Regions from separate parts of the Homo sapiens genome. Here region 1 is linked to region 2. Evidence: fine-mapped expression QTL. A gene starts in region 2. The other region holds a variant in brackets. All regions are shown on one strand. Distances are from middle to middle.

Region 1 (16,968 bases), 310 kb before region 2:
GAGCTGACGATTAGAGAGAGAACTTTAAATGAGGTTCTCAGACAGCCCGAACCTTGGTCTAGGTGTCCCCTGGGCACTGGAGTTGCCTGGTATAGGTGAAGGAGAAAAATAGCCACCCTATCAGAGCCCAGGCCTTAGAGTGGGGACACAAAGGTTGATGCCACCCTTCTCTGCTTGAACTGTTGTCCTAACTACTCATCTAGTCCTATCTTCACAGATTCCAGCGAATCGGGAGAAGTCGCCCGTCCCTGGTTGTGCCCTAAAGCTTTCCTCCTTAGGGTCTAACGGAGGCTTTCTCTGATTACCTCTAGATACAAACATTAAAAGATTGTTTTAAATGGGCACAGCAGATAAGTGGGACAGGTGCCACCTCTGTCTCCTCTCATGCATAAGGTTATTGCCATTAATTGGTCATTGCATTAGTTTTTCCTTCCAGGCCCTGAGTAGGTCTTTGTCATCTCCCAGCCACTGAGTGAAGTTGGCAAACAAGGTGAAACAACTCTATCATGGCAGGCCTTCTCTGGCCATCCCAATTTGTTAGTCCTAGAATCACTGCTGATGTGGCATCAGATGGGCTTTTATTCACTGGTTTCCAAGGAGAATCTCCCAGAGAGTCTGAGGGGGTTGAGAAGAATCTGCACAAATGGTGACTAAGTGTTGAATCACTCCATGCTGGTCAGGTCTAATGTGAGCCACAGCCATGGCACTGTGATTTGTTCCATGGCCAAGAGGGATTAATCTGAGGCAATAAAGGGATCAGGACTCATGTTTTCCATTTATTCTTGGAAACAGGGGACAGAGCTTAAGTTGTGTTTGTGTGGGTGGGTGTGGTACATAAATTTCATTTTCCAGCATAGGTATAGGTCAGTCTTGCTTTAAGAAACCTGGTCCATCAACAGAATTTCCACAGGACCCACCACCCTAGATGTCCTGATGAGGTCCTATTGAAACCTATCTCTCCCAGTCCACTGACACATCATCTGAACCACTGATGGGGGTTGCCAGCCTTCTACATTTTCCCTCCTCAACATTGCTGGGAGTATCTTGGAGATGTTTCTGATAAGCTCATGACCAAGTTCCCTCCCTCTGGGTGAGACCGCTGCTTCTCCGGTACCTCATTTCTCAGCTGCCACTAGTTGAGTACCAAAAAGCTCCTGCCTCGAGGAGAAAACTCTGGCTCTTTGGAGCTTAGCGTTCCCTGAGACTTTGACATGATGCTCCCACTTCTCCTTGGGTCACCATAGTCCTCCTGCTCTATCTGGTATAATAATTTCCTCCCAGGGATGTTAAGACTATGCCAAGAATCACCAAGCTGTGGAGGCCTGGACTACAGAGGTGCATTTCTCTGTGCGTGCAGGGGTATGGCAGGCACCGGGCTGTGACACTCTGGCAACAGACCTGTGTTTTATGTAGCATCGCTTCTCCCCTGTGTTCAAAAAGGAGCTCCTGACCTGTCCCTGGGTCAACTTTGGAAAAGTTCTCTTCCAGGATTCTTTCCCCTTACAGAAAACATTAAGTCATCCCAACTTATGCAAGACATGTTGCACCTTCATAACCGACATGGGTTCTATTATAGTTCAAGGATCCTTTTTTGCTCCCATGGAAATAAACTTCTGTTGGTCCCATCAGTTTAGTTTGCTGAGCAGTAGGAGATACGTGAATCTGAAAGTCAGGCTACAATGCCCAAATGTGAAAATTATAATGTAGAATAAAATACAAAAGTTTTGCCTTAAAATGTGTGTATCAAGAATGGTGGGTAGCAAATTATGGTAACTGAGAGTGGTGCTGAAGCCCTAAGTTTTGGTCTCATTCTCACCTAAGTAAGAACCTGATCAAAAGAGGGGAACGTTTAAACAAAATTATGGGATGCCATTGTTTTGAACTGAGCTTGTACACTAAGCCCCAACAGACCAGAGAAAGTCAAAACAAAGTTTCATGCTAAATGCCACATAATCAAATGGAAACTTTAAGAAAGCAGATAGGTCCTAAAACAGACCAGGTTTTGTATTTTTCGTGTACACAGGAGATTCCAGCACAAGGAGGCCCCCTCTACTGTAACCAAAAAAAGAAGAAAAGAAAAAAGCCTGAATTCCTCGTTCCCACCTTACAAAACATACTCCTCTTCAATTTCCTAGTAGGATTTAGGACCAAATAAGTACATTTACAATGGAGACAGAGTGATTTCAATGCCTAAAGTTTTGGTCAACCTCTTAAAATTGGGAGGTTGATCAAAAGTAGGAAACTATTAAATTAAGTTTAGTCTGAAGCTGCCTCTTTACATTTTTCAGTTTGGCTTAAGTGTTTCTCTGTACATAGTGCACTGTATATGAATGAATGGTGTGTGGTAAGAGGAGCTCTGCCAACCTTCTCCTCATTGAAATTTAACTGGTGAAAATTATAAAAACAAAATAATTAATGTGGTGAAACCCCATCTCTACTAAAAATAAAAAAATTATATGGGCATGGTGGTAGGCGCCTGTAATTGCAGCTACTTGGGAGGCTGAGGCAGGAGAATCGCTTGAACCTGGGAGACAGAGGTTGCAGTGAGGAAAGATTGCACCATTGCTCTCCAGCCTGGGTGACAAGAGCAAAACTCTATCTCAAAAAACAAAACAAATCAAAACAAAAAACAATTTCATCTCTAAAAATTGTCTCAATGGCATGCAGCAAATGGAAAAACATTTACTTGAGAAAATCTAATACATCTTGATAAAAATAGCAAGAGACTGACATTTGAGCCATGAACTGCTCCCATGTCCAGCCCGCACTCAGCTTCTTGTGAAAAAAGCTCTACCCTAGGGACTTTACTCCAGATGTGTTTAGCCAAGAAGGCATAGGATCCCTCTTCTTCCAGTTTCCAGTCTATGGCTTTGACTTCATGCAGAGAGAGGCAGAATACCAGCTTTCCTCATACCCCTCTTCTTGCAGGAGGTCTACTTTGGGTGGATGTGGCTAAAAGGACTAGCATTCACTTCTTTCACCCAGTTCCCATTCATATAAAAGAAGCTCTACCCTAGGTATGGCAAGTCAAAATGTTGGGACTACTTTTGTCCATGACCTTTCAATGGATGAAGATTCCACAGCAGTAGGGGCAATCCTAGAAGACCATGGGCTACCATCTCTGACCAGTGACCACTCGCAGAGCAGGATATTCCTTTGGGAAAAATGGACTATTGTTCTTGCCCGTATGTCCCACCGGTGACACAGGGATTCCATAGAGCAGAAGAGGCAAGCCTCAAGCATGGATAGCTACACAGTTGTTCCTGAGAGGACTGATTTTGTTTGGAAAAGAGTGCAGAGAATTTTATGCCTAAGGGTGTTGTCAAAAACAATGGAGATCTTTGTGGAGAGCCACTAAGAGGGGACTGGTAGTTCCATGAGACTTGTAACAAGTGAAAAAGCAGAACAGCCAAGAGTCTAACAGAGAGAACCCGGAAAAGAAAGAGTGTAGAAAGATCCTCCTGGGATCGAGGTCAAATCTAGGTGTTGGCAAGGCTATTCCTGTAGATTAGTCTGCATTCAGTTGGAAAAAATTAGAGTAGGGAATGGGACAGAAACAGTACCCAAGTCACACACAAATTCATCAAAAAGGGGCGGATGCTTCCCTGGCACATGACACGTAAGCACATACTCTGACCAAAAACTGACTTAAGAAAAAGCTCTTCTGTTCCAGAGGAGACTCCTATAAAGCCAACCTTAAACAGAAAATCACATTTACCTTTTGAAGTCTGGAAGACTCTGTGCATTCCAAGGCCATGTCCTCTCAGGATTAATTGAGGAGGAATATTTTAAACTATTAGTTCCTACTTGACCTTGGGAAAAAATTGTAACTTTCCTGAACCGTGAAAGCAATTTCCAAGCTAAATATACATCCACGGCAATGGGTAAAAATTTAATGACTAATGGGGGCTTGAGCACAACCTTTGACCAATAAGCAGCTTAATGTGGACCCAGGGGTGACCACTAGGCTAAATGAAAAAACTAGGGAAAAATTTATGAGGATAGACAACAGAGGCTGCATAATGTAAGGCTAGAGGAAGAATAAACTTCACAGGTTTAATTTAGACAAATCACTAAAAATCAACAAATGACTAGTGGGAGAGGGAACAAGCCTGGGTGTGGGTGTGACAGGAATGTAATCAGTTGGAATTTCTACAATGTATTGTCTAAAATGTCCAGTTGGAAACAAAAAATTTACAAGATATGCAAAGAAACAGGAATGTGTGACTCATAGTAAAAAAAAAAAAAATAGTCAGTAGAGGGAACTAAATAAAATAAAGTAAAAATTGTTTTGAGGGAACACAAGTGTTGGGCTTAGTATACAAAGACGTAAACTAGCTATTATAATATATTCAAAGCACCAAAATAAATTGTTTAGAAAAAAATAAAGAAAATTATGGTGACGATATCTCATCACACAGAGAATATCAACAAAGAAATAGAAGTTATGAAAAAAGAATCAAATGGGCTTTCTGAAATTGAAAAATAAAATAATTGAAATGAGAAATTTACGAGAGGAACTCATCAGTACATTTTAAACTGGTACAATCAGGAATAAGTGAATTTGAAGATAGAGCAATAAAGATTATGCAATCTGAAGAACACAAAGGAAAAAGGATAAAGAAAAACAGAGTCTCAAATAAATCTGACACCATTAGGCACAGCAATATATGTGTAATGAAATTACCATAAGGAAAGGAGAAATAGAATTATAGAAATTAAAAACATAATGGCTGAAAACTTTTCAAGTTTGGTGGAAAACATTAATCAGCACATCTAAGAAGTTCAACAAACAAAAAGTTGGATACACGCAGATATATTTGCCCAGACATATCATAGTTGAAATCTGAAAGCCATATATGAAGAGAAAACCTCAAAGGCATCAAGAGAAAAATGACTCATCATGCACAAAGGTACCCCAGTAAGATTAACAGCTGACTTCTTATCAGAAATAACAAAGAGCAGAAAACAGTGGGGTGATATATTCAAAGTGTCTAAAGGAAAAACAACATAAACAACAAAAATTCCCTCTGTCTTATACCCAGCAAAACCAAAAGCTATCTTTCAAAAATGATGTCCAAATAGACATTCTACAATAAACCAAAAGTGAGATAATTCATTGCTAGCAGGCTTTTCTTAAGCGTAATTCTTCAGACTGAATATAAGTGACACCAGACAGTAAATAAATTTCACATTTTAAAAAATGAATGCTGATAAAGGTAAATATAAAGACAATATAAGGATATATTTCCTTTTTAAAAACTGATTTTAAAAGTAATTGCATCAAATAATATGTATAAATTTATATAGTTCTTCCTATAATATATTGATGGTAACAGCCCAAAGAAGACAGTGGGAGCAAAACTGTATGGAGAAAGGAAACGATACTAGATGGTAACTCAAATCCACAGAAATAATTTAAGAGAGCCAAAAATGCAATTAAAATTTAATAAAACAAACTTTCTAAATGTATACTTTATCTCCTTGTTTTCTTTCAGCTTATTTAAAAGACATAAGATTACATAAAGTAACAATTATGGCAGTGTATTTTTGTGTTTGTTACCTGTATAGATGTTAGATGTGCAGTAATCATAACCAAAAATAGTAGCGGAGGGGGATGTGGCTACATATGAATACAACTTTTATATATTACTGGAATTAAGCTAATACATATTTGAAGCAGACTCTGATAAGTTAAGATGTATATTGTAGGCCCTAGAGCAACTATTAAGAAAATAACTGAAAGATATAATAAAATCTCATTATTGGAATTAGTTATAATAGATACTACAAAAAGAAGGTGGTAAATGAAAAACAGGGGTCTTTAAAAATCATGTGGCATATGCTACACTTGATGGTAGTCAAAAGGTCAAGAAGCAATTCATGTGACATATAGAAAATGAAAAGCTAAATGGCAGAGGTAAATCCAACCATATCACTAATACAATATTAAATATGAATGGATTAAACAATCCAACAAAAAGGAAGAGATTTTGACACTGGATTAAAAAAATTAAACCAAGACACAAGTATATGCTGTCTACAGAGAGGCACTTAGATTCAATAATACAAACAAGTTAAAGTAAAAGGATAGAAGAGTATGTAGAATGCAAATAGCAAACATGAAAGAGCCAGAGTGGTTATAATAATATCAGAGAGGATAGACCTTAAAATTAAAAAGTTACTAGAGATACAGCATGGCAGGGATACTGACAAAAGTTCAATCCCTCAGGAAGATACATATAATATAAATATATACACACCCAACAAAAGATCTACAAAATACATGAAGCAAAACTCGGCAGAATTTATGGAAAAATAAAAAATTCAACCATAATAATTTGAAACTTTAATATCCCACTTTGAATAATGAATAGAACAACTAGTGATGATAAACAAGGGTACAGAAGACTTGAACAACTATAAAACAACTAGGTCCTGCAGACATGTATAAAACCCTCTACCTGATGAGAGCAGAATACACTTTCTTCTCAAGCTCTCATGGACCATTCTCCTGCATGTGGAGCCATAAAATCAGCCTCGATAAGTTAAAAAAATTGAGATCATGCAAAGCATTCTCTCAGACTGTAGTGAAATAAAATTAGAAATCAACAAGAGAAGGAAATTTGGGAAATTTTATAACATGTAGGATTAAACAGCACACTCTCAAAATAACCAGTTTGTCAAATAAGTCACAAAGGAAGTTAGAAAAGCCCTGAGCTGGTAAGTTGGTAAATCCTTGTCCAATGAGAGGAATCCTTTAAAGGCTCAATGGAGGAATGGGAAACAGGTCTTACCCCAGGAAAGCAAATGCATCAGAATAGAACAGAAAGGGGTCTCCCTGGGGCTCATACTGGGCAACTGCACATGTTCCTGGTTTGTGCAAAGAGCTGTCTTCAGAAAAATGGTGGAAAGAGAGGAACAGGAACAGGACTTCAGGAGAAGTTTGCACACAGCAAAACCATCCCTGTGGAAGTGGTAGGCAGGTAACCCGGCTCCTACCATACTTCCTCCTGCCTCCTCCCCTGGGGCTGGCTCTGTAAAGAGTCTCTTCTAAGCCACCAACCTGAGCTCATGTATGACTTCTCCTGCCTTTAATTTCATACAAATGTACAACTTTGTTGGCTTTTCTCAAGTCAAGTTACATCTTCTGTTATCAATGGGAAACAATGTGCCTTTTCTGTAGCTAACTGATGCAAATCTAGCTCAGAATGGGGGTGGGAGATGGGGAGACAGGTGCTGGGCACAGTTAAGGGCAGCCCAGCTATCTAGAACCTTTCTCTGGACTTCCTTCAGGGTTTTGCAGCCTTGGCACTATTGGCATCTAGGCAAGATAATTATTTGTTGCAGGAGGTCTTGCCTGTGCATTGCAGGATAGTTAGCATCATCCATGGTCTTTACCCACTACTTTCTAGCAGCACCCAAATTCCCCATTGTGACAACCAAAAAGGTCTCCAGACATGAACACATGTTTCCTTGGGGGCAAGATTGCCCCCAGGTGAAGAGCACTGGCGGCTTTACTGTCAGACTAACCTGGGTTCAATTCCCTCAGCACCCCTCAGCAGCAGCATGTTCCTGAGTCTGTTTCCCCCTCTGTAGAGTAATAATGTTACTGTTGACCTCCTTGTGTTGTCTGGTGATGAAATGAGTAAGTATATGTGAAGCACCCCATTCATGAAGGCACTTGGGGTGCCTCCCGTTACCTCACCCCCCACTCTGCATCACAGCCACCTCTATTCCCCTGATCTATTCCCCCAGACCTGCCTACTCCAGCCTTTCCTAGGCAGCCTGGACATTGGGCTGGGAATCTTGGGGTCATGAAATGTACGAGCTGGAAGGAGTTACGCAGGGTTCATCTAGGTAACTCCTTTATTGTTCAGGTGGAGACAGGAATCCGAGGAGGGAGCAACCATTCCACCTACAGGACAGTGCAGGGCAGACAAAGTTTGTCAACAGCTTCCTGCTGTCTGGATGGGAGTCTCTTTGACTCAGTCCTCTCCTTTTTTATACCGAGCATCCCACTGTATTCTCCCAGGAGCCCTGAGCTGTAAGGAAACAGAGTAGGGATGAATGTCGCTATTTTATAGGGGAGGAAACCGTGGCCCAGAGAACTCAGGCCATCTCTCTAAATCACACAACCGGTTAGTGACAGAACCAGGACAAAACTCAACTCTACTGGCCCCTAACTCTATTCCCTTTCCTGTATACCTGCAGAAAGAAGAAGTGTCAATTTTAAGCCTGAGGCAGGGCATGTACGAGAGAGACATTGGATCAGACAGCCTTATCATAAAATAATAATTCTGCAACACTTGCTCATTAGAATCATCAAGGTAGATGAAAACAAAAAAAAGAACACCTACAGTAGTTTATCCATATACTAGAATGTTCCATGCTGGGAATCTAGATGTGCAGCAGAGACAGGTACTTCTGGTGAAGACACCTCTGCCTGCATATGCAGGTAGCCCTTGAACATCACACAGAGAGAGTGTTCACCCCAGGGCTCTCATG[G/A]AGGGAAGCCTGCCAGTACCTGCACGCCCGCCTCCTCTGGATCTCTCTTTCCTGGCAGAAGTGATAGGCAGTAACAGTGACTGGGCCCCAGAGCTCCCCTCTCACACAGTTACTGGGTATAAGAACTAGTGAAAGCTCAGGAAAATAATTTTCTTTCTACCCCAAACAATCTTTGTAAGAAAATGAATTGCCATATGCAATTGATGTTTTTAAATATCTTTTTATTGTTTGGGTTGAATTTTTTTTCCTTTTGAATGCAGGGTCTTAAGTAATGAAAGAGTGAAAGTTAATTTTCCTCTTCTTCCCATGGGATGTTCAGTGAGGCTTTGAATTCAGGTCCTGGACTCCTTTTCCCCAATCCAAGTTAGCAGTTTTTGCACTTGGAAGATGTGGGAACATGGGGCCACATTCCCCCAAGAAATAGACGAGCTGCTTCCAAGGCTGGATGCCTCCCCAAACATCCAACTTCTCGCTGGTTCTGCAGGCAAGCTCCATGTGCTCCCACCCTGCGGTTTCAGTCCGTTACATTTTCTGTTCGATCTGTGTAAGCATTTGGATCAGTGGCTGCTTACCCAAAAGAATGTGTCTGAATGGTCTCAAAAGTGGAAAAAATGAAAGATTTTGTGCTTCAAGGATAAAAGATAGATGTGGCAAACCATGGGAGGGAGTTGGACTCCAAAAGATGAAGGACAAAGGGACTGCCAGTTCAAAATATCAGGGCCAGGAACTTAGATGTCTGGACACTGAGCCCTGCAGTGTTGTTAAGAGAGCAGCCACTGAGGCTGGCCTGGCAGGTGACCAGTGAAGGGGATCTACACCGGAGAACCAGACATGAGCATCTCTATGGCAGAGGAATGAATGGTTGACCAGAAAGTAGAGGTCCATCCCCAAACAATGCCAGGGAGGATAGAGTGATCTTACCAACAAAATGACCAAGACTAAGGGATCTCCCAGATTCAACTGGACATAGGCAATTATACAAAAATTATGGTTTCTTATGGCTAAGTGTCAGACAGCAATTCCTATGGTTCATCACATAAAACCACAAAACCATTCCCAGCATTTTGCCAATACTTTTATTTTATTTAATTATTTTTAGACAGAGTCTCACTCTGTTGCCCAGGCTGGAGTGCAGTGGTGTGATCTCTGCTCACTGCAACCTCCGCCTCCCAGGCTCAAGCGATTCTCCTGCCTCAGCCTCCCGAGTAGCTGGGATGCCCGGCCACCATGCCTGGCTAACTTTTTTGTGTTTTTAGTAGAGACAGGGTTTCACCATGTTGGCCAGGCTGGTTTCGAACTCCTGACCTCAAGTGATCCACCCACCTTGGCCTCCCAAAGTGCTAGGATTACAGGTGTGAGCCACTACACCCGGCTGTTTTACCAAGACTTTTGACCCATGTTATTTCATTTGATCTCAAACATAGCTGGCTTCCTTGCAGTCAGGGAGTGCCTGTCATCTTAATGGGGGAGAAGCTGGATCCTGAGAACGATCAGGTAAGTACCTAGAGTTCTCATTTTTATTCTCATTTTACAAGTGAGAATTCTGACACTCAGGCAAAGTGACTTATCCAAAATCAAACAGCTCGTAAATGCTGAGGTTTGAAACCAAATCCAGTTGCTTTCCAAACCTGCTAAACAAATGCAGAAAATAACCATCTCCTACTTAAGGCTTCAGTTCAGCATTCATCAAAAGGCTGTGGGCTTGAGTCCAAACAAGCCCACTGATTTGCTCTGTGAGTTTGGGTCCAGCATATCCCTTCCATTAGAAAGGGCAGGCAAAGTGCTTACTTGTTTACAACGTGTCCACAGCAGGGAACATGGGAAGTGGTCAGAGAGCAAGCTTTGGTGGTGTGGAATCTTAGCTCTGTCACTTATTAACCATGCACTTTTCAGCACATTTTTCAAAATTTCAGAGATTCTGTTTCCTCAGCTGTAAAGGGCTCTAATAATACAATCTTATTAGTCTGCTATAAATATTATAAACAATGCTTTACAGCAGTTGGGACCCAGTACACACTCATTAAATAGCCTTATAGAAAGTAGTTGTTTTGTAACTTGAAGCCAGGAGCAGGGATAGTTTTCTAATTTTATTTTTTCCAGAAAGAGTTGGTAGCTCTTGGTTGTCAGTCGGACCATTGTAGAGCTCAGTCATTACATGTAGTCAAAGAAGAGGATCTGCGATGCATCCAGGGCCTGGGTCTCTGTGAAGCCACAGAAGGGGATTCTAAGTGAACCTGGGGACTGTTAACATTGACACCCGCTGAGGGATGTCCTCTGTGGTGAGCAAGCCTATTTAGAATGACGAAACCCGCAAAGCTTTGTTCGGCCCACAGTGCTTCATTAGGAAGAAAACATGACGACTTCATTTGAATGGAGGCTAATGGCTAACAGATGGTCTGGCAAGGCAAAGACCACAAAACACTGTCTCCAAAAATGTAGTTAGGTTTTGTAAACCCTGAATTCTGTTTTCACTTTACTCTCCAGTTTCTGTGAGTGTGAGCTGGGACCGAGGAAGATGGCTGAAAGGAAACAGAGCATGACCAGGGAATGTGTTTATGCTTCTGCAAAACTAAGTTATTTCCACTAGCTGCCCCCAGCAAGATAAAAATGAGATGTATGAGAAGAGAAAGAGGGCCAGGACACGGCCTTTGAAACTAATCTAAGAGGTATCTCTGTGGGGTGGGCTCTTGAAATCACTTCTGCTACAAGGTGATGACCCAATGAGAAAGAAAGGGAACACTTACTAAGCTAGTGTCTAAATACTCACTGTGCTAGATTTCACACACACAAACACACACACACAAACAAAACAAACAAAAATTTTATAATGTCAACCTCCTTCCAATCACACACACACACAATTTTGTCATGTCAACCTCTCTCCAATCTCTCACACACACACACATATCCCCAATTTTGTAATGTCAACCTCCTTCCCATTAGGGTAAATTCAGGCAATAGAGGGTTTTTGTTTGTTTGTTTTCCATTTTATTTGTTTTTTTGTTTTCAGCTTTTTTTTTTTTTTTGCAGGCACCAAAATACTGTTGAGCTCTGGGGCCAATCCTACTGGTTTGGAGGTAAACAGGGTTTAGAGCCTAGGAAATAAACAAAAATGACAGAAGACAGTGCACTCTGAGACTCCTAAATCTTCATAAAATTAATTATGGCTCAATTGCTTGAAAACTCATAAGTAAATGCAATTTTGTTTCTGGATTGATTGATGTAGCGACAAAACAGAGATAGCATAATGGGAACTGAATGTAGCAGCATAACAGTTTGTATTTATGGCATTGGCAGAAATTGTGGGGAGGGATTTGACTTCCACAGGCTGTGGAATTGAGGTTTTAAATTAAGTAGAATAAAGCTGACATATTTTATTTCATTAAAATTGACAAAAATACATATCTTGACTATTGTGAGTAATGTGGCAATAAACAATAAATGGGGTTAGAGATTATTAGTCCTATGTTATTAAGAAACTGAAGATTAAAAGAGTAAAAGAAAATAGAGTAAGTGGGAGAATCAGTATTTGAATCCAATTATTTTTCATTAGAAAATTTATGACTCACCAGAGCCACCAAACTACCTACTTTATTGGTTGGGAAAATTGCCGCATTGGAAGAGACATGACCACATGTGTGTAGTTTGTCCACATTATAGAAGATACCAAAACTGATTTGGTCTACCTCCTAAGCTGCTTTCCTTTGAATGCATTTTAAAAATTAACAAATATCTTAAAAAAATAACTCTGACATGTACCCATTGTAAAAATAAAACTAAAATAAACTTAAAAGCACAAAAATAAATGTTAAAAAATGCATCATGCAAAATCCCACACAGAGACAGTATTGTTATCAAAGTTTGATGAATTTCATTAATGTCCTTTTCTTATACAAACTAGATACTGATAAGCTATCAATCTAAATTAGCTGTATAGATAGGATTTTATAACACTGATATAAAAGTTAAAGCCAGAGCAATTAGTCAAGATAAATAAATAAATGAAAAAGGAGAAGTCAAAATGTCCCTGTTTGCAGATAACATAATCTTACATATTGAAAAGCCTAAAGACTACCGAAAAACTCTAAGGACTCATAAACGAATTCAGTAAAGTTGCAGGACACAACATTAACGTACAAAAATCAGTATCATTTCCATACCCAAATAACAATTTCTTTCATGAAAAAGAAATCAAGAGGGTAATCCCACTTACAATAGTTACCCCAAAATGGCTATTATCAAAAACACAAAAAATAACAAATGCTGGTGAGAATACAGAGAAAGGGGACCCCTATACACTACTGGTGGGAGCCTAAACTCATACAGCCCCTACCACAGAAAACAGTATGGAAGTCCTTCAAAAAACTACAAATAGAACTACCACATGATCCAGCAATCCCACTACTGAGAATTTATCTGAAGGAGGGAAATCGTTATATCTGAGAGGCATCTGCACCCCCAAGTTTATTGCCTCATTATTCACAATAGTCAAGATATGGAATCAACCTAGGTGTCCAACAACAGATGAATTGATAAAGAAAATGAGATGTATATACACTATGGAATACTATTCAGCCATTAAAAATAAAATCCTGACATTTGAGGCAACATGGATGGAATGGGAGGACATTATGTTGGGTAAAAAAAAACCAGGAACAAAAAAATTAAACTTCGCATGTTCTCACTCAGATGTGGCAGTTAAAAAAAGTAGATTTCATAGAAGCAAAAAGTAGAACAGAGCATACTAGAGGCTGGGAAGGAGAGGGAGACAGGGAGAGATTTATTAAATGATACAAAAATACAGTTATGTAAGAGGAATACGTTCTAGTGTTTTATACCACTGTAGGATGACTAGACTTATCAATAGTACACTATAAAGCTTCAAATAGCTAGAAAGAGGATAGTGATGTTCCTAGCACAAAGAAATGATAAAGGTTTGAGATGATACGTATGTTAATTACCCTGATCTAACAACTGTACATTATTATGTATTAAAACATCATTATGTACCCCATGAACATGTGCAATTATTGTCAATTAAAAGATAAAATAAAAATTTAAAAATACTTTAAATATATTAATTATGAAAATATAGATTAATCTGAGATTTAATGCAATTTTGTTAAAAAGCCCAAACAGAATTTATTACAGATTTGATAAGCTCCTTCTGAAATTTATAGACAAGAGCATATAGTGAAGAGAATAAAGTAAAAAATGTACTTTACCAAAAATAAAGACTTCTTTTTTTTAATTATACTTTAAATTTTAGGGTACATGTGCACAACGTGCAGGTTAGTGACATATGTATACATGTGCCATGTTGGTGTGCTGCACCCATTAACTCGTCATTTAACATTAGGTATATCTCCTAATGCTATCCCTCCCCCCTGCTCCCACCCCACAACAGGCCCCAGTGTGTGATGTTCCCGTTTCTGTGTCTATGTGTTCTCATTGTTCAATTCCCACCTATGAGTGAGAACATGCGGTGTTTGGTTTTCTGTCCTTGCAATAGTTTGCTGAGAATGATGGTTTCCAGCTTCATCCATGTCCCTACAAAGGACATGAACCCATCATTTTTTATGGCTGCATAGTATTCCATAGTGTATATGTGCCACATTTTCTTAATCCAGTCTATCATTGTTGGACATTTGGGTTGGTTCCAAGTCTTTGCTATTGGGAATAGTGCCGCAATAAACATACGTGTGCATGTGTCTTTATAGCAGCATGATTTATAATCCTTTGGGTATATACCCAGTAATGGGATTGCTGGGTCAGCCCCATGGTATTTCTAGTTCTAGATCCCTGAGGAATCGCCACACTGACTTCCACAATGGTTGAACTAGTTTACAGTCCCACCAACAGTGTAAAAGTGTTCCTATTTCTCCACATCCTCTCCAGCACTTTTTGTTTCCTGACTTTTCAATGATCGCCATTCTAACTGGGGTGAGATGGTATCTCATTGTGGTTTTGATTTGCATTTCTCTGATGGCCAGTGATGATGAGAATTTTTTCATATGTCTGTTGGCTGCATAAATGTCTTCTTTTGAGAAGTATCTGTTCGTATCCTTTGCCCACTTTTTGATAGGGTTGTTTGTTTTTTTCTTGTAAATTTGTTTGAGTTCATTGTAGATTCTGGATATTAGCCCTTTGTCAGATGAGTAGATTGCAAAAATTTTCTCCTATTCTGTAGGTTGCCTGTTCACTCTGATGGTAGTTTCTTTTGCTGTGCATAAGCTCTTTAGTTTAATTAGATCCCATTTGTCAATTTTGGCTTTTGTTGCCATTGCTTTTGGTGCTTTAGACATGAAGTCCTTGCCCATGCCTATGTCCTGAATGCTAATGCCTAGGTTTTCTTCTAGGGTTTTTATGGTTTTAGGTCTAACATTTAAGTCTTTAATCCATTTTGAATTAATTTTTGTATAAGGTGTAAGGAAGGGATCCAGTTTCAGCTTTCTACATATGGCTAGCCAGTTTTCCCAGCACCATTTATGAAATAGGGAATCATTTCCCCATTTCTTGTTGTTGTCAGGTTTGTCAAAGATCAGATGGTTGTAGATATGTGGCATTATTTCTGAGGCCTCTGTTCTGTTCCATTGGTCTATATCTCTGTTTTGGTACCAGTATCATGCTGTTTTGGTTACTGTAGCCTTGTAGTATAGTTTGAAGTCAGGTAGCATGATGCCTCCAGCTTTGTTCTTTTGGCTTAGGATTGACTTGGCAATGTGGGCTCTTTTTTGGTTCCATGTGAAATTTAAAGTAGTTTTTTCCAGTTCCGTGACGAAAGTCATTGGTAGCTTGATGGGGATGGCATTAAATCTATAAATGACCTAAGGCAGTATGGCCATTTTCACGATATTTATTCTTCCTACCCATGAGCATGGAATGTTCTTCCATTTGTTTGTATCCTCTTTTATTTCATTGAGCAGTGGTTTGTATTTCTCCTTGAAGAGGTCCTTCACGTCCCTTGTAAGTTGGATTCCTAGGTATTTTATTTTCTTTGAAGCAATTGTAAATGGGAGTTCACTCATGATTTGGCTCTCTGTTTGTCTGTTATTGGTGTATAAGAATGCTTGTGATTTTTGTACATTGATTTTGTATCCTGAGACTTTGCTGAAGTTGCCTATCAGCTTAAGGAGATTTTGGGCTGAGACAATGGGGTTTTCTAGATATACAATCATATCATCTGCAAACAGGGACAATTTGACTTCCTCTTTTCCTAATTGAATACCCTTTATTTCCTTCTCCTGCCTGATTGCCCTGGCCAGAACTTCCAACACTGTGTTGAATAGGAGTGGTGAGAGAGGGCATCCCTGTCTTGTGCCAGTTTTCAAAGGGAATGCTTCCAGTTTTTGCCCATTCAGTATGATATTGGCTGTGGGTTTGTAAGACTTCTAAAGAATTTAGCAAAATAGAGACCATGCCAATTTGGTCCAGAATTTTATACACAAACACAGAATGACTTATCCGTAAGGAAGAAATAAAACTAGAACCCACGTCATGCTGTATGCAGTAGTCACTTCCAAGTGGATTAAAACTTAAATAATTTGTTTAAAAGTAGTTTCAATTTGGAAGAAAATATGGGTGACTATATTTAACACCTGAGGTAGAGGGGGAAGGATTTCTTTTAGAAAACCACGAAGTTACAAGCCATCAAGGGAAATTTAGTAAATTTGCCTATGTTGTAATTGAAAACAGGTGAGACTTCTTGCTATGGCAAAGAGAATGGCAAATGTTTTGCCCCCAAAACCAAGTTTACAACTGAACAAAATTGTCAGAAACAAACATTTCAGGCCTCTGGAGGGTGACCAAAGCAAAAAACAAATGGAAAGATATTTTTAAATGAAGATGTGCTGGAACTTCTGCTAAAAGTGGTGGGAGGGTTGGATGCAATGGCTCACACCTGTAATCCCAGCACTTTAGGAGGCCGAGGCGGTGGATTGCTTGAGGTCAAGAGTTCGAGATCAGCCTGACCAACATGGTGAAACCCCGTCTCTACTAAAAATACACAAATTAGCCAGACCTGGTGGTGGGTGCCTGTAATCCCAGCTACTCAGGAGGCTGAGGCAGGATAATCACTTGAACCTGGGAGGTGGAGGTTGCAGTGAGCTGAGATCGTGACACTGCACTCCAGCCTGGGCAACAGAGCAAGACTCTGTCTGGAAAAAAACAAAACAAACAAACCAAAAAACCGAGTGGGAGTCTGAGGCTGCTTGCCAGGGTCTGCTCCCATTCCCTCTACCCCTAGCTCAGTTGCAGCAGTTTTACCAGGGTAGGGTTGGCCATGGAAACCAGCAATTTCGCTGCCAGAGGCAGCTCACTAAATTTGGAGTAGAGGGTGAAAACTCATGGCTGATGGTGTTTTCGGTAAAATTAGAAAACTAACTAGGAAAAAAGTGGGGGAAAACTTGTAACTCTGCTAGCCTAAGGTTGTTACTCTTGGTTGCAATGAGTGTCAAACCA
Region 2 (8,000 bases):
GTGATTTTATGTTTCAGCACTTTGGAGCCAAATACTTATTTCAAGAGGGGGATTGCGGTGGGAGGGTGTCAAGTAATACAAAAAATATTCTTCATGTAGAAAAGGTTTTCAAATTTCAGATCTATTTGTATTGCTGTCAAAATTTTTGCTATGTCTCCAGCCACCTAGACTAGCACTTGCTATGTTAGCTTCAATTGACTTACTTTTTAAAACTTGAACCATATATTAAAAAAAAAACCTGAGCAATATCTGAAATATCTGCCTTTACTGTGCTAGTTATATTTTTTCTTATTACTTTAAAAAAATAAATACATAAATCTATATTTTATAGATTTCAGAGTACCACCTGAAGTCACCTTGTCAATTACACACTGTACAACATGGATTTAGTGTAAACCTTCAATCCCTACTGGGAACCCTCTTGCAGGCCCAGCCGTTGGGCCCTGGAGGAGTGAACGGCCCAGGCCAGGCAGAGGGGGGTAGGCAGATGCTGCCTAGGGGTCTAGAGACCATAGCACACATGCCAGCTCAGGAGATGCCCTGCCTTTAACTCAGCAGCCAGACCCCTGCCTCCCACCTTGAACTGTGCTTAACAAGGCATCCCTGAGGAGCCGCTGTGCCCTGCATTACCTGGTAGAGCGGCACAGAGTCTGAAGACTTCAGGAGAAGGTGGGGCTCTATGGGGAGTAAGAGTCCCCAGGCAGAGAAAGAAAGGTGGAGCCTTTTGAGCATAAGCATAAGCAAAGGACACAGGGAAAGGGGTGGGGAACTTCGCTGACCCGAATTTGAGAGGTACCCCTGTGGCCGAGTGAGCTGGAGACATGTCAAAATGGCCTGGTCTGATGGCCGCCTGCCTGTGCAGGCGGTGCGGAGGCCCCCAGAGTGTACAGGGTTTTATTTTATTTTATTTACATATTTACATATTTATTTATTTATTTACATATTTGTTTATTTATTTATTTTTGAGACGGAGTCTCGCTTTGTCACCCAGGCTGGAGTGCAGTGGCGCCATCTCGGCTCACTGCAAGCTCCGCCTCCCGGGTTCACGCCATTTTCCTGCCTCAGCCTCCCGAGTAGCTGGGACTACAGGCGCCCGCCACCACGGCCGGCTAATTTTTTTGTATTTTTAGTAGAGACGGGGTTTCACCGTGTTAGCCAGGATGGTCTCGAACTCCTGACCTCGTGATCCGCCCGCCTCGGCCTTCCAAAGTGCTGGGATTACAGGCATGAGCCACCGTGCCCGGCCAGGGTTTTAAATTTCAATCGCCAATTGTAAAATTGTGAGGCTTGTACCTAAAATATGGATCCTTGGCCACCCTATTTAAAATCCTAACTCCCACCCCACTTTCCTCTGCTCCATCTTCCCCTAGCATTTAATGGCCTTCTAAGTATTTTATGCGTAATTACTTATGCTTAGCGCCATGTGCTTCTAAACGTTTAGTGCCTTTTCTAAACTACTTCAAACATGTAGCCCAGGTCTAGCACATAGTGGGTGCTCAGTAAGTATTTAACGAACGACTAGCGGAAGGGATGGCCCCATGGGTGCCACAGTAGCTTCTGTTCTGGGGCCTCAGGGCGCCTGCGGGAGGGGCAGCGGCCAGGCCTGAATCCCTGGTTCGCCCTCGACTCAGCCCACGCGGGCCTTTCAGGCTTCTGGGACAGATCCTAGGTCCAGCTGCCCACCTGATTTTGTGGCAAAGAAAAAAAGAAGAAGAAGAAGCGAGAGGCGATGGCGTTTGCTTTGGCCAGATTTAAGGGCAAGCGAGGCTGCGCGCGGCTCCCGCAGGGTCGGATCTCCGAGCTCCAGGGCGCCCCTCCACCCGGGTGTAGATTTCCCGCGGACCCCTTCGCCCTCCCGGGTTTCATCAGCTGCGCAGGAATGGAGCTGGCCAGAGCTCTGGGAGCGGGGAGGGAGGCGCCGCCACCAGAGGGCGCCGGAGCCCCAGCGCTGCGGCCGGTGAGCGGCCAGGCTCCCCGGCCCAGCCCAGCAAAGGCCTGGGGACGCCCGACGGCTGCCTTCTTCACTGGACCTCACTGCCTTCAGTTCTTTAAGAGCAGGGCCAAGTCAGTGGGGTTCCCGGCTCCAAGCCCAGTGCCCAGGGTGGGTGGGTGGGTGGGTGGGTGGGTGGATGGATGGATGGATGGATGGATGGAGTGCCGGCCCACAGCCATCTAACGGCCAAAGTGGTTTTGGAAAAAAAATGCACAGAAGACACCTACTCCCACCAGCGGAGTTCCGGAGCCCTCGCAGCCTCCTGTTGACCGCTCCCGCCTAATGCAGCCGCTGACCGCCCACTCCCCGACGGCCAGGACTCCCCAGGGACAGGGACGTGTCCCCAGGGCAGGCCCCTGGATGGACGCGGCGACTGACCCCACTTCGCTGGACGCTGTGCTGGGAAGGACACAGAGAGGTGGCTGGGGCAGCCTGCGGTCACAAAGCGAGGCCCAAAGGGGCGCTCTCCTCACCCCCACGTCTCCTGGGTGCCGACCTGCACCCTCCCTTCGCCACCGGACTGGGGCCATCTGGGATGTCTCGGGGGTATCCGGAGGGCTAAGCACCGCCGAGGGACGGCTCCGTGGGAAGAGTTTTCTGGACCCAGAAGGCAGACGCCAGTAGTACTGTCCTAGGAGTCGGAGGTCGGGGTGGGGGAGTTCTCAGCTCTTTGGGTCGCACGGAGCTTTTCTTGGGTAAGGCAGTAAGTACTTAGGTTTAAAGGACTTACTTACAGCTACCATTTATTGAGTACTGTCTGCTTGTCAGACACGATGCAGAGAATTTCGCGGCGTGGGGCGGGTCTCATTGAATCTCCCGTCCCACTCCGCGGGGTGGGCCTGTGATTAGCTCATTTCACCATTGAGAGGTCGGAAGTACAAAGGCTACATTCGCTTTTACTGAGAGCCGCCGGCGCCTTCTGCTTTGTTTGTACAGGCGAGGAAACTGAGGCTCGGCTGGTGGCGCCGTGGGCTTGGAGTCCGAGCCACGCTGACTGCAAAGACGGGTCTCATTCCCGCAGATCGAGCTCTGCCGGCGGCTGCGCCGCAAGCCGGGCAGGTGGCGAGCTTGAGCCCCCACGCACAGAAAGCAGGACCCCCTCGGCTGCCTTGGGCCGCCACCGCCAGCAGGCCCTCCGCCCGGGACTAACTTGTTTGCTTTTCATTGGTTCTCATTCAGTTCCCGCCATCGAAAGGCCCCGTCCCGCAGCTTTCCACGCGCGCCCCACTTTACGCCTAAGGTCCTCAGTCTCTCCAGTGGGGCCCTGTCACAGGGACAATAAGCGGCCCTCCAGCCGGCGTCGCTCAGGCTGCGGACCTCACTGCAGACCGGGCCAGCGGTGCGGGGCCCAGCGGAGCCTGAGAAGGTCAAAGGCCGGAGCGCACTGCGCCTCGGGAGCACAGAGGGAGCGGAGGAGGGGCGAAGGGGATGGGTGGGGGGTGCCGCCGAGGGAGTCGCGCGTCAGAGACCCCGGCCACGGCCAGCACTCGGCTCCGGGCCCGCCCCTCACCGCGCGCCCCGCCCCGCCCCGCCTGGCTCTCCCCTCTAAAGCGCCCGGCGCGCGCCTCCCACCGCCGCACTTTCACTCTCCGTCAGCCGCATTGCCCGCTCGGCGTCCGGCCCCCGACCCGCGCTCGTCCGCCCGCCCGCCCGCCCGCCCGCGCCATGAACGCCAAGGTCGTGGTCGTGCTGGTCCTCGTGCTGACCGCGCTCTGCCTCAGCGACGGTAAGTGCGCTCGGCGGGGAGGCCCTGGCGAGGCTCTGGGCTTCGGCTCCCGCCCGGCGCAGAGCCGCGGCTCCTCTGCCTGCGCCCGCAGTTTGCGCCGCCCGACACAGTGGGGGTGGAGGCAGCTCGCTTAGCTGGGCGCTCTGGTGCGGTGTCGCGTTCAAAGCCCTACTTTTGCGCCGAGGGTTTGTGACCTGCAGAGAGCGACCGCCTGACCTCAAGCTGGCTGCAGAGCGAGGTCAGCCGGGACAACTGGGCAGGAACGCCCCAAGAGAGCGTTCGGGACTGGCGCGGGAAGGCGCGAGGGTGGGGAGCCGCGGACCCCAGACCCCTGCCTGCCCACCCTCCACCCACTGCCTTCCCGCTGCGGGCTCGGTTTCCACAGGCGAATGGGCTCCGAGGTCCTGCTGCGCACAGTGCTGGAGGTCGGGCGGTGCATGGCGAGAGCGCGCTTTGCAAAGTTCGCCTCATGCCGCGACTTGAGGCTGTGAGGTCCGATGCAGCCGCGCAGCCTCCGCTCCCTGCGAAGCCGATCCTCTCCCCACACCCTCGCGGGGCTCTTGGCCAGGCGCGGGCGGGCTGCGCGGCGCAGCTGTCGGGCTTGTGCCACCCGCCAGGCCGCGCTTCTGCACAGCTCCGCGGTCCGCAGCGACGCGGACCTGGGCGCGCGTCCAGCCGCTGTCTTCCTGTCTCTTCTCGGGTTCACCTGAGAGAGGCCCAGGGACCCTCCGAGCCTCACACGCCCCCTCCCCAGCTCCCCAAACACACCTGCAGACAGGCTCTTTTGTCACCAGCTGGCCAAGCGCTTTGCCCCAGAATGAGAGCTGCAGCAAAGTTCAATCTCCAAGGCCCTGGGCCACTGGGAACCGTGGTGTCCCGTTTCACTGGGAGAGGGCTTTTTTCTTTTCTTTCGCTGAAGAGAAACTCGCTGCGCTGTCACAGGACACCGATGCAAACCAAAATAAACTGTTGCCTCTGAACACACAAAACAAAACCCTGTGGCTCAGGCCGCTGAGCTTCCTTGGCTGTGAAGTTTCCTGCAAAGAGTTGAAGGACACTCTGAGTGCTCTTGCAGCCGCGGGCTGTGCAGGCCCAGCGCGCCTCGAGCCCTTGGCTGGGTTGGTGCAGACGTGGCCCCGGCGTCCTAGCTGGCTTGGACTGTGCGCTGGTGTGAGCAGGACCAGCGCAGCTGAGTCGGGCTGGAGAAGCTGGGCAGCCTGGGGTCGTGGCGGACTGCCTAAGTGTTAAGGACACAGACTGAAGGCAATTGGGAATGTTCGTCGTTGATGAAAAGTCCCTGAGGCTGTGTCTGCACACTGACCCCCCCCCCCCCCCGCAAGTCATGGGGCATGTTTCTAGTTTTTATTGCTGGATATTCTTCTGTTCCTGTAAGGTCTCTGGTTTGGGCAGTTATTGACTGATTGGTGGGATGAGCGCGGAGGTGTCACAGTGCGCCGCTCTGGGAAATGGTGCTGCCCCCTCCCCGGAGGGCTGGAGAGAGGATTGGAATGAGGAACCTCGGTCTTTGAGTTATGGGTGCAACTGACCTGGGGGAAGCACAGAGACGTGGGGTTCATCCCAGACTCCTCCTGGCCTGGGAAGGGTGACATGGCCCTCAGAGTTGCCCCATTGGCAGCCAAGTAACCAGGGCAGGAGCCTGGGCTCCAGGCAGATCTGCTCCTTACACACATCGCCAGAATGTTTTGTTTTGTTTTGTTTTCCCCTCACCTCACAGTGCCTATGTGCCCCCTATCCCCACACTTAGTCCTCAAGCTGCACTACAGAGAGAGCTTGGCCAGGGGTCCTGCCCCTCCCCCATTGGCTGACTTCCGTCAGGCAGCTGGGCCCTTGGGTTTCCCGGGCTTAAACTCAGGGTGGGCCCCCTTCCCAAGCCTGCTTGGAGGGGCCAGCTGGGCTCCTGTCTCTGCATTAGACTGGAGGGCTTTCTGAAAACTCCTGGAGCCAAGCTCACCCGGTCCCAAATCCGGGGTACCATCAGAGCCAGTCAGGACTCTTGCCGGTACACGGATTTACATCCAGAACGGTTGGGAAAGTTAGTCTTACTGACAAAAAGCTGGAGGAAGGAGCACATGAGGTACACACGAGACCATGTTCTTTTGGTAAGCACACCTGGGGGCTCTGTCACTTTAAAAAGACCTGTTGAAATTCGCTGCTTGACAGGCGGGCCTTAGGTCCTGGGAGTAGAAGCAAGAATTGCTTTTGAAGGAAATGGATAATCCCAGGGGGTGGAGGGGGAGAGGAGAGAGAGCCTGTGTGTTGAGCTCTGAATAGGCTCTGATTTCTGGCCTCATCACCACTGCTTGGTTGGGGGGCCAGAGGAGCTTCTCTCCTCTGGGCGCTGGAGAGTCACAGCCCCACCCATCCCAGCGGGGGCGGCTGCAGCACTTGCCCTTGGCTGCATATCTTCAAGCTCACTGTTGCCGGGAGGGGGCTTGTGCCTCACTACCGGCCTCCTATTCTCCTGCTCCACCCCCAACCCACCCCCTGCCTCAGCTTGGAAGGGCCCAAAAGAAATCCAGGGAAACCTGGAGGCACAACACTCAGGAGCGTTTAGCTCCTCAGTTACCCAGGCTGCAGGCCCCGGCCCTGGGGGTGGCTTTCCCAGGTGATCTGGTTACAGTGCAGTGCTGACTTCCCCTGCAGGGTCCCAGTGCAGCTGCTGGAAGCTGGCCCCAGAGGTGCCTTTCTGGAGTTAGATCAGGTGTAACTGTGAAGGCTGCCTTAGGTCTCTCCAGTGCCATGAGTCACCAGCACCCTGATGCTTGGCTTTTTCCTGGTTTTCAGGGAGTTGCATTTGGTCCTGGGGACAAGGAAGTGGGGGGACAAGTGGTCCACTTTTCCTGCAACTTGGTGGCTGAATACACAATGCAATTCCTAGTCCACATCATCCCTCAATTGATTGCAGTCTGTAGAAAAAATAAAATAAAATGAGCCCCTTACTCAAGATTTCCTCCTACTTCCCCAGCATTCTTTCCCAAAGGTGCAGAATTTCAGAACCACAGAGGTCTCTCAGAACTTTGTAAACAGGCAAACTTAAAAAAAAAGAAAAAAGAAAAAAAATCTCTGGACCAAATATTCTTAGACATATATTTAATCTCTGATGAAAGGATCCACAAGTTCAAATAATTTGGGGTATTAAGTGGGGCTTGGATAAAATCTTCAAGGAAAAAAGAAAAACAAAAAGCACACACAAATCCCAGCCCTCCAGGGCTTGCAATCCTATATTTAAAGGGTGAGCAGTGGGTTCTGCAGGAGCCCCTTGCTAATTTACACTAATGAGTGTCAATTATGGCATTTTGTAAATTGGTGATTTTGCAAAGATCTTAATACAATTCCTGAGGCTACAGCATCCCTGCCTAGGCAATGAAAACCACATTTAACTCCAGCTCCACTAATCTCTAAGCCTTGGGGAAAGTGCTGGGCAGAAGGTGGGTCCTTGGCCTGCTCTCAGGGGACTCACAGGTAGGAAGCCAGCCAGGATTCTTTTGTGCCTTCCAGAGCTTTAGGTGAATGTGAGGAGGGGTCTCTGGGGTGGGGGAGGGCAGCATTCCTGAGTACTACTGTGCTTCCTGGCTAGAGGCCTGTGCCAGAGGAGAGAGGCCAGGGAGCCTGGAGCCTCTTGTCCCCCTTTCTTTTCCCTGAGTAGGGAGATCTTTCTCAGTTGTCCCTTGAGGAATTTTTTTTACAAAGAGTAACTGGAAATTTCAGTACCTTGGACTGAAACCGTTATCTACTATAATTACTACCTTTATCTTGAGACACTGAGCAGGTGGCTTCTAATTTAAACTCCCGCCTCATCTAGGCTCCGGCTCTCCCCAGGCCTGTTGGGCTCCTTGCCCTGTAGAAGCTGAGCCTGAGCTCAGCCAGCACTCACTGTGTTGCCTGAGGAGATGGCCTTTCCCAACATACACCAGTAACCTGGAACTTACCCCAGTGATGCCGTCTCTTGATCCTTAATCGCTGCACCAACTGCTGCAGCCCAGACACACATTACCAAAATCTGGCAGGGTAGTAAAGTGCCTTGTTGTCCTTACCTCTTCTAGGGAAGCCCGTCAGCCTGAGCTACAGATGCCCATGCCGATTCTTCGAAAGCCATGTTGCCAGAGCCAACGTCAAGCATCTCAAAATTCTCAACACTCCAAACTGTGCCCTTCAGATTGTGTAAGTCTTGAAATTGAACATCATCTAACGAACATAGTTGCATCTAACGAACATAGTAACATCTAACCCGAGTCTTATTAAAGGTGTAGAGGTGACAAG

Which allele goes with the higher level. Positions count from the first base shown, and alleles are read on the strand shown. Sizes are in standard deviations (SD) of each study's normalised expression.
With allele G in place of A in region 1, the expression in sigmoid colon of the gene that starts at base 3,567 in region 2 is lower (moderate effect, 0.52 SD a copy in GTEx).

What was found. PIP is the estimated chance that this variant, and not a neighbour inherited with it, causes the effect.
Region 1: its variant is fine-mapped to the expression of CXCL12 in sigmoid colon (GTEx, PIP 0.99).

What each region holds. Positions count from the first base shown.
Region 1 is chr10:44,690,640-44,707,607 of GRCh38, reverse strand. No RefSeq gene overlaps it. Among named protein-coding and RNA genes, the nearest start is that of TMEM72, 210 kb to the left of the region's middle. The variant G/A (reference allele first, on the strand shown) is at 8,509.
Region 2 is chr10:44,380,664-44,388,663 of GRCh38, reverse strand. CXCL12 (C-X-C motif chemokine ligand 12) reads left to right here and starts at 3,567. Exons shown (of 3, transcript NM_199168.4): 1 at 3,567-3,719; 2 at 7,784-7,901. The coding sequence starts at 3,659. RefSeq lists a silencer at 1,829-2,038 and enhancers at 3,932-4,623, 4,624-5,317, 5,318-6,011.